Regions from separate parts of the Homo sapiens genome. Here region 2 is linked to region 1. Evidence: fine-mapped expression QTL. A gene starts in region 1. The other region holds a variant in brackets. All regions are shown on one strand. Distances are between the middles of the regions.

Region 1 (2,906 bases):
CAGCGCACTTCGGGCCCTGCACGCTACCTCATTTCCCTAATAGGGATGAAAAGCTCAGGCCTCTGGTAGCTTCCAGCTGACGCCAGTGCTCTCTCCACACCCCTTTTTTGACAGGATTATCCGGGGTTGAACGCTGTGTCACAAATACGAATTCCCGCGACCACGTCTAAGTGGTCTAACAATCAATCAAGCATCTTTTACAAAACCAAACCCTTCCCCCATCCCGTTCCCTCCATCTCTCTCCCTAGCCAAACAAACCTAGGAGAGTCCTCAAGATGGATTTTCACAAATCCTGCAGCGCACTAACTGGGAGGAAGAAACGATACAGAAAATAAGAGTGTCGGCCATCCCCCTCTCTGCAACCGAAATTACAGGCTCCATTTCCTGTCCCCTTGGGAACTGCAAAATCCTCTGCTGAAAACCGGACGCCTCCCAGCCCCTCCAGGCCGGCGCACGCGGCCGCCGCGCTCCCCCTTCCCGGGCCCCGTGGGCGCCAGGGGGCGGCGGGGACCCACGGCGCCCTCCCCTCCCCCTCCCCGCACGGCACCCACCTCGGGGCAGCGGCTTCACCTCCCCGTTCTCCTCCCGGGAGGCCCCGCCGGCCTCTCGGGCCCCACCGAGACCGTGCCTCCTCCTCTCCTTCTCCCGCTTCTCCTTAGGTCTGCGCGACTTGGCGTTAGCCGAGGCAGCGGCGGCGGCGGCGGGCAGGAGGAGATGGTGAGGCTGAGCGTGCAGCAGCGTAGGAGGGACCAGCAGTTTGCGCGGCACCGGCTGAGACAAGGAAGCGGAGGCTGAGGAGGGAACGGCCGTGCCAGCGGAGAAAGAGAAACTGCTCCGAGAAGAGGACGGGGAGGGAGCAGCAGACAGAGGGGCAAAGCTCCAAGACGCGGGGCTGCCATAGCTCTGAGGCGAAGGTGCTGCCGGCGGCTGCAGCTGCCTGCTGTTCCCGCCGCTGCCCCCTTCTCCGTTCACTCTCCGCGGTGCCTTCTTCTCCTCAGTCCGGACCTTCTTGGCGGACAGAGAACCCGGAGGGTCCCGGGAGGAGAGTTGCAGCTTGCCAAACGGTTCTTTCTCCGAGACGGTGGCGGTGGGGGCCGCGGCAGCGACACAGTGCACGGGGCTCGGCGGTTCCGCCATTTTGCGCTCCTGTTGTATTTACTCTCCTCCGCTAGCCGGCGCGGGGCAGGGGGCGGGCCCTCCGCGAGGGGTAGGGAAGGGGCGGAGCGGCCAGGCCACCAGCCGGCATTGCTCCATTGGGCAAGCCACGCTGAGGGATCCACCTAAGAGCCAATCAAAGGCACAAACATCAGACGAAGGGGCGGGATCGCCACAGGGACCCTCTTCGGAGGTCAGAGCTCGGCGGGGTGCGGCTAGTGGCGGAGCGCGCTGCGAGGGGAGGGCTTTCCACTGTCGCTGGCGTGAACTCGCGTGCCCGGTGGGTATCAGGGAAGAACCCCCGCCCCGGACCCCCAGATCTGCCATGGCCGAGGTAGCGATCGTCTCTGCGGCCACGAAGACTGTTTTAACTTGTACCACTTTCCCTTCCATTTTTCCTGGGGTGCCTCTCACCCTGCATCTGCGCGTTCAGCAAGCTGGATTTCGGGAATGCTCAGTTCAGAAGAGAAAAAATTGCCGGGAATCAAGTCCTTCTTTTTGTTAGTCGGTAGTCGATTGATGGGAAGTGTTCAAAATCATTCGATGTGGTGACAAGGTACGTTATTATTGCTAGATCATGTGCTGTAATCCATTGAAGGAGATAACTTCCAGCAAATCTAGAACTTTAGTATTACTTACAAGCTTGAAGGTGAGAGTCTCCCTTTGGAGACTTTTGAACTGTTGTGACTAGACCCTTAAGATTTTTATTTTATTTATTTATTTATTTATTGGGACGGAGTTTTGCTCTGTTGTCGAGGCTGGAGTGCCGTGGCGCGATCTCGGCTCACCGCAACCTCCGCCTCCCAGATTCAAGCGATTCTCCTGCCTCAGCCTCCCCAGTAACAGGGACTACAGGCGTCCGGCACCATGCTTGGCTAATTTTTGTGTTTATTAGAGACGGGGTTTCACCATGTTGGCCAGGCTGGACTCGAACTCCTGATCTCAGGTGAGCGGCCCACCTCCGCTTCCCAAAGTGCTGGGATTACAGGCGTGAGCCACCATGTGCGGCCTTAAGATTTGAATTTTATAATAATTATTATAGCCGGGCGCGGTGGCTCACACCTGTAATCCCAGCACTTTGGGAGACCGGGGCGGGCGGATCACGAGGTCAGAAGTTCGAGACCAGCCTGACCAACATGGTGAAACCCCGTCTCTACTAAAAATGCAAAAATTAGCTGGGCATGGAAGCGCGCACCTGTAATCCCAGCTACTGGGGAGGCTGGGGCAGGAGAATCGCTTGAACCCAGGAGGCGGAGGTTGCAGTGAGCCGAGACTGCGCCACTGCACTCCAGCTTGGGCGACAGGGCAAGACTCCGTCTCAAAAAATAATAATAATAATAATAATATTATTATTATTATAACGTAGACTTGCCAGGAAAAATTCGTTGGCGATTATTTATGGATGTTTGAAAAGCAAGAATTGTTTTTTTAGGTTTCTGTATTTTAGCGTTTAGTAAGCACACTGCGTGTTCGATGTTTTGTAAGCATGTGCTTTGATTTTTGCTTCGAAAATAAGCAATTTGGGGAGATGGGTTTTAGCTTAAAAGATAAGGAATGTGGCCGGGCGCGGTGGCTCATACCTGTAATCCCAGCACTTTGGGAGGCCAAGGCGGGCAGATCACAATGTCAGGAGTTCGAGACCAGCCTGGCCAACATAGTGAAACCCTGCCTCTACTAAAAATACATAATTAGCTGGGCGTAGTGGCATGCGCCTGTAGTCCCAGCTACTCTGGAGGCTGAGGCAGAAGAAT
Region 2 (2,906 bases), 210 kb before region 1:
TAGGTTTTATATAACCTGTTGCTGGTTATTTATCTGAACTCTTTCAGCCCTGTGATCACCATTCTCTGTAATCCTAGGGCTGGGAGCATACAAATTATATTTTCTGTATATCTTAACAGGAAGTTATTACATACTGTGAAATTCTGACGACAAGGCATTAGAAAAAGGAGGAGGAGCCACTTTCTTCCTCTCTTTTTCCTTCTTTCTTCTGACTGTATCTTTCTAAAAGTGATCATGTCCCTCCCATGGTCTCAGTTCCTGAGACAGTAGCTTTTCCTCCGTAACTCTGGTATCACTTCCCCTTTTTGTTTTCCTCTCAAGTTAAGGTTTAGAAGATATATGGAGAGCCGGGCGTGGTAGCTCCTGCCTGTAATCTCAGCACTTTGGAAGGCTGAGGCCGGCAGAACACGAGGTCAGGAGTTTGAGACCAGCCTGGCCAATATGGAGAAACCCCATCTCTGCTAAAAATACAAAAATTAGCTGGGCTTAGTGGCACACGCCTGTAGTCCCAGCTACTCGGGAGGCTGAGGCAGAAGAACTGCTTGAACCTGGGAGGTGGAGGTTGCAGTGAACCGAGATCATGCTGAGATCATGCACTCCAGCCTGGGCAACAGAGCGAGACTCCGTCTCAAAAAAAAAGAAGATATATAGAGAAAACATTCACTTATTTTATATAATGCTGAGTTATACTTTTTGAGCATTTAATGAAGTCCTACGAACTAGACAGTGCTGCTAGAGATTTCTGCTGGAGATCAACTAAGACAGAATGTTGTTGGGCACAAATATTTCAAAGGCAGGACTTCACGTACTGGGCAAGGGGAACTCTAGGAGTAGGCTGGATGCAATGGCTCACACCTGTAATCCCAGCACTCTGACAGGCTGAGGCGGGTGGACTGCTTTAGCCCAGGAGTTTGACACCAGCCTGGGCAACAAGGCGAAACCCTGCCTCTACAAAAAAATTTCAAAAATTAGCTGGGAATGGCAGTGCATGCCTGTAGTTCCAGCTATGGAGGTAGAGGTAGGAGGAATGATTGAGCCTTGGAGGTTGAGGCTGCAGCGAGCCATGACTGCACCACCGCACTCCAGCCTGAGCAACAGAGAGAAACTGTGGTGGCTGACAACTGTAATCCCAGCACTTTAAGAGGGTGAAGTGGGAGGATTACTTGAGGTCAAGAGTTCAAGACCAGCCTGGGCAACATATTAAGACCCCATCTCTACAAAAATAAAAATAAAAATAATTAGCTGGGCATGGTGGCGTGCTCCTATAGTCCTAGCTAGTTGGGAGGCTGAGGCTGGAGGATTG[T/C]TTGTGCCCGGGAGTTCAAGGCTGCAGTGAACTATGATCGCACCACTGCACTCCAGCCTGAGCAACAAAGCAAAACCCTATGTCTAAAAAACAGAATAGAATAGAATGGAATATTATCTTCCATTTTTAGGACTGTTAATCTTTAAGATTCAGTGGCAATTAGGCAATGCAGAAAAAAAGACAAGACACAGTCTCCGCTCCCTATCCCTTGGTTTAGACCAGGGGTATCCAATCTTTTGGCTTCCCTGGGCCTCACTGCAAGAAGAAATGTCTGGGGCCACACATAAAATACACTAACACTAACGATAGCTGATAAGCTTTAAAAAAATTAAAAAAAATCTCATAAGGTTTTAAGAAAGTTTATGAACCTGGGTTGGGCCACATTCAAAGCCATCCTGGGCTGCATGTGGCCTATGGGCCATGGGTTGGACAAGCTTGGTTTACAGGAAAGAAGAGACATATAAAGAAACAATGAAAATACCTGTTATGAACTAAACTGTGCTCCTTTCATCCTCCCCACACAAATGCATATGCTGAATGAAGCCCTAACCCACAATGTGACTACGTTTGGAGACAGGGCCTATAAGGAGGTAGTAAAGGTTAAACAGATTCGTAAGTGTAAGGCCTTAAACTGATACGACTCTTGTCTTTATATGAAGAGGCAGAGATACCAGAGTACTCTCTCTCTCCACTCACACACACAAGAAAGGCCCTGTGAAGACACAGCAAGAAGGTGGACATCTACAAGTCAGAGAAGCCTCATCAGACACCAACTCTGACATTGCCTCACTCTTGCACTTCCACCCCTCAGAATGGTGAAAAAATAAATTTTGTTGTATAAGCCACCCAATCTGTGGTATTTTGTTATGGTAGCCCAAGGTGACTAATATAACACTTATGATTAACTGCTATAATATACATAAGAAAGATATGTAACTACATTGGGGAGTTACGAAAGGATTCTTCAAGAAAGTGATGTCTGATGTCTAATCTAAATTTGAGAGAACATAGAGGATTGACTAAACAAAAGGGAAAAGGGCTACCCCACGCAAAGGGAGTTGCATGTCCAAAGACACATAGGCAAAAAAGCATGGAATGTTTAAGAAACAGCAAAGAGCTAGTTTAGCCTGGTTAAGGTGGGATAGAAATTCAAGGAGGGATTTGAAAACTCAGATTGCATCTTGAAAGCAATGATAACTAGTGAAGAAATTTAGATCTTAAGCAGCTGGTTTGAATTTGTCATTTAATAGGTAAATGGACAGAAAGTAGAAGATGATATGAGGTTTCCTGGCAGTAATCTTGGCAAGAAACTAGGCAACCAAGACATGCAGAAATGGGGATAGAGCTGAGAATACATAGCTGAGATACTTAAAAAGCATGTAATTGAAATAAAAAAAACTATACATAGTTATATAAAACCAAATCTGACTGCATTTGATTCTTTCTGCCTTTCAAGAAGTGCGAACAAGAATGAGGACATAACTCAGAGCACTGCAGCACCCTGCTTTTCCACAGGGTGCTGCAATGGAGACAGACATACAGTGGTTTTCAAAGGTAATGGCAGCCTGCCGAGGGTCATCAGAGTCACATCATGACTTTGGCA

The links. PIP is the estimated chance that this variant, and not a neighbour inherited with it, causes the effect.
Region 2: its variant is fine-mapped to the expression of RSBN1L in whole blood (TOPMed, PIP above 0.99).

Annotation. Positions count from the first base shown.
Region 1 is chr7:77,694,701-77,697,606 of GRCh38, reverse strand. RSBN1L (round spermatid basic protein 1 like) reads right to left here and starts at 1,148. Exons shown (of 8, transcript NM_198467.3): 1 at 552-1,148. The coding sequence starts at 1,137. APTR (Alu-mediated CDKN1A/p21 transcriptional regulator) reads left to right here and starts at 1,342. Exons shown (of 2, transcript NR_134254.1): 1 at 1,342-1,711. RefSeq lists silencers at 1-27, 318-637, 1,108-1,327 and enhancers at 848-1,077, 262-1,157, 1,158-2,053.
Region 2 is chr7:77,903,725-77,906,630 of GRCh38, reverse strand. All of the region lies in intron 6 of PHTF2 (putative homeodomain transcription factor 2), which reads right to left. Among named protein-coding and RNA genes, the nearest start is that of DDX3ILA1, 85 kb to the left of the region's middle. The variant T/C (reference allele first, on the strand shown) is at 1,304.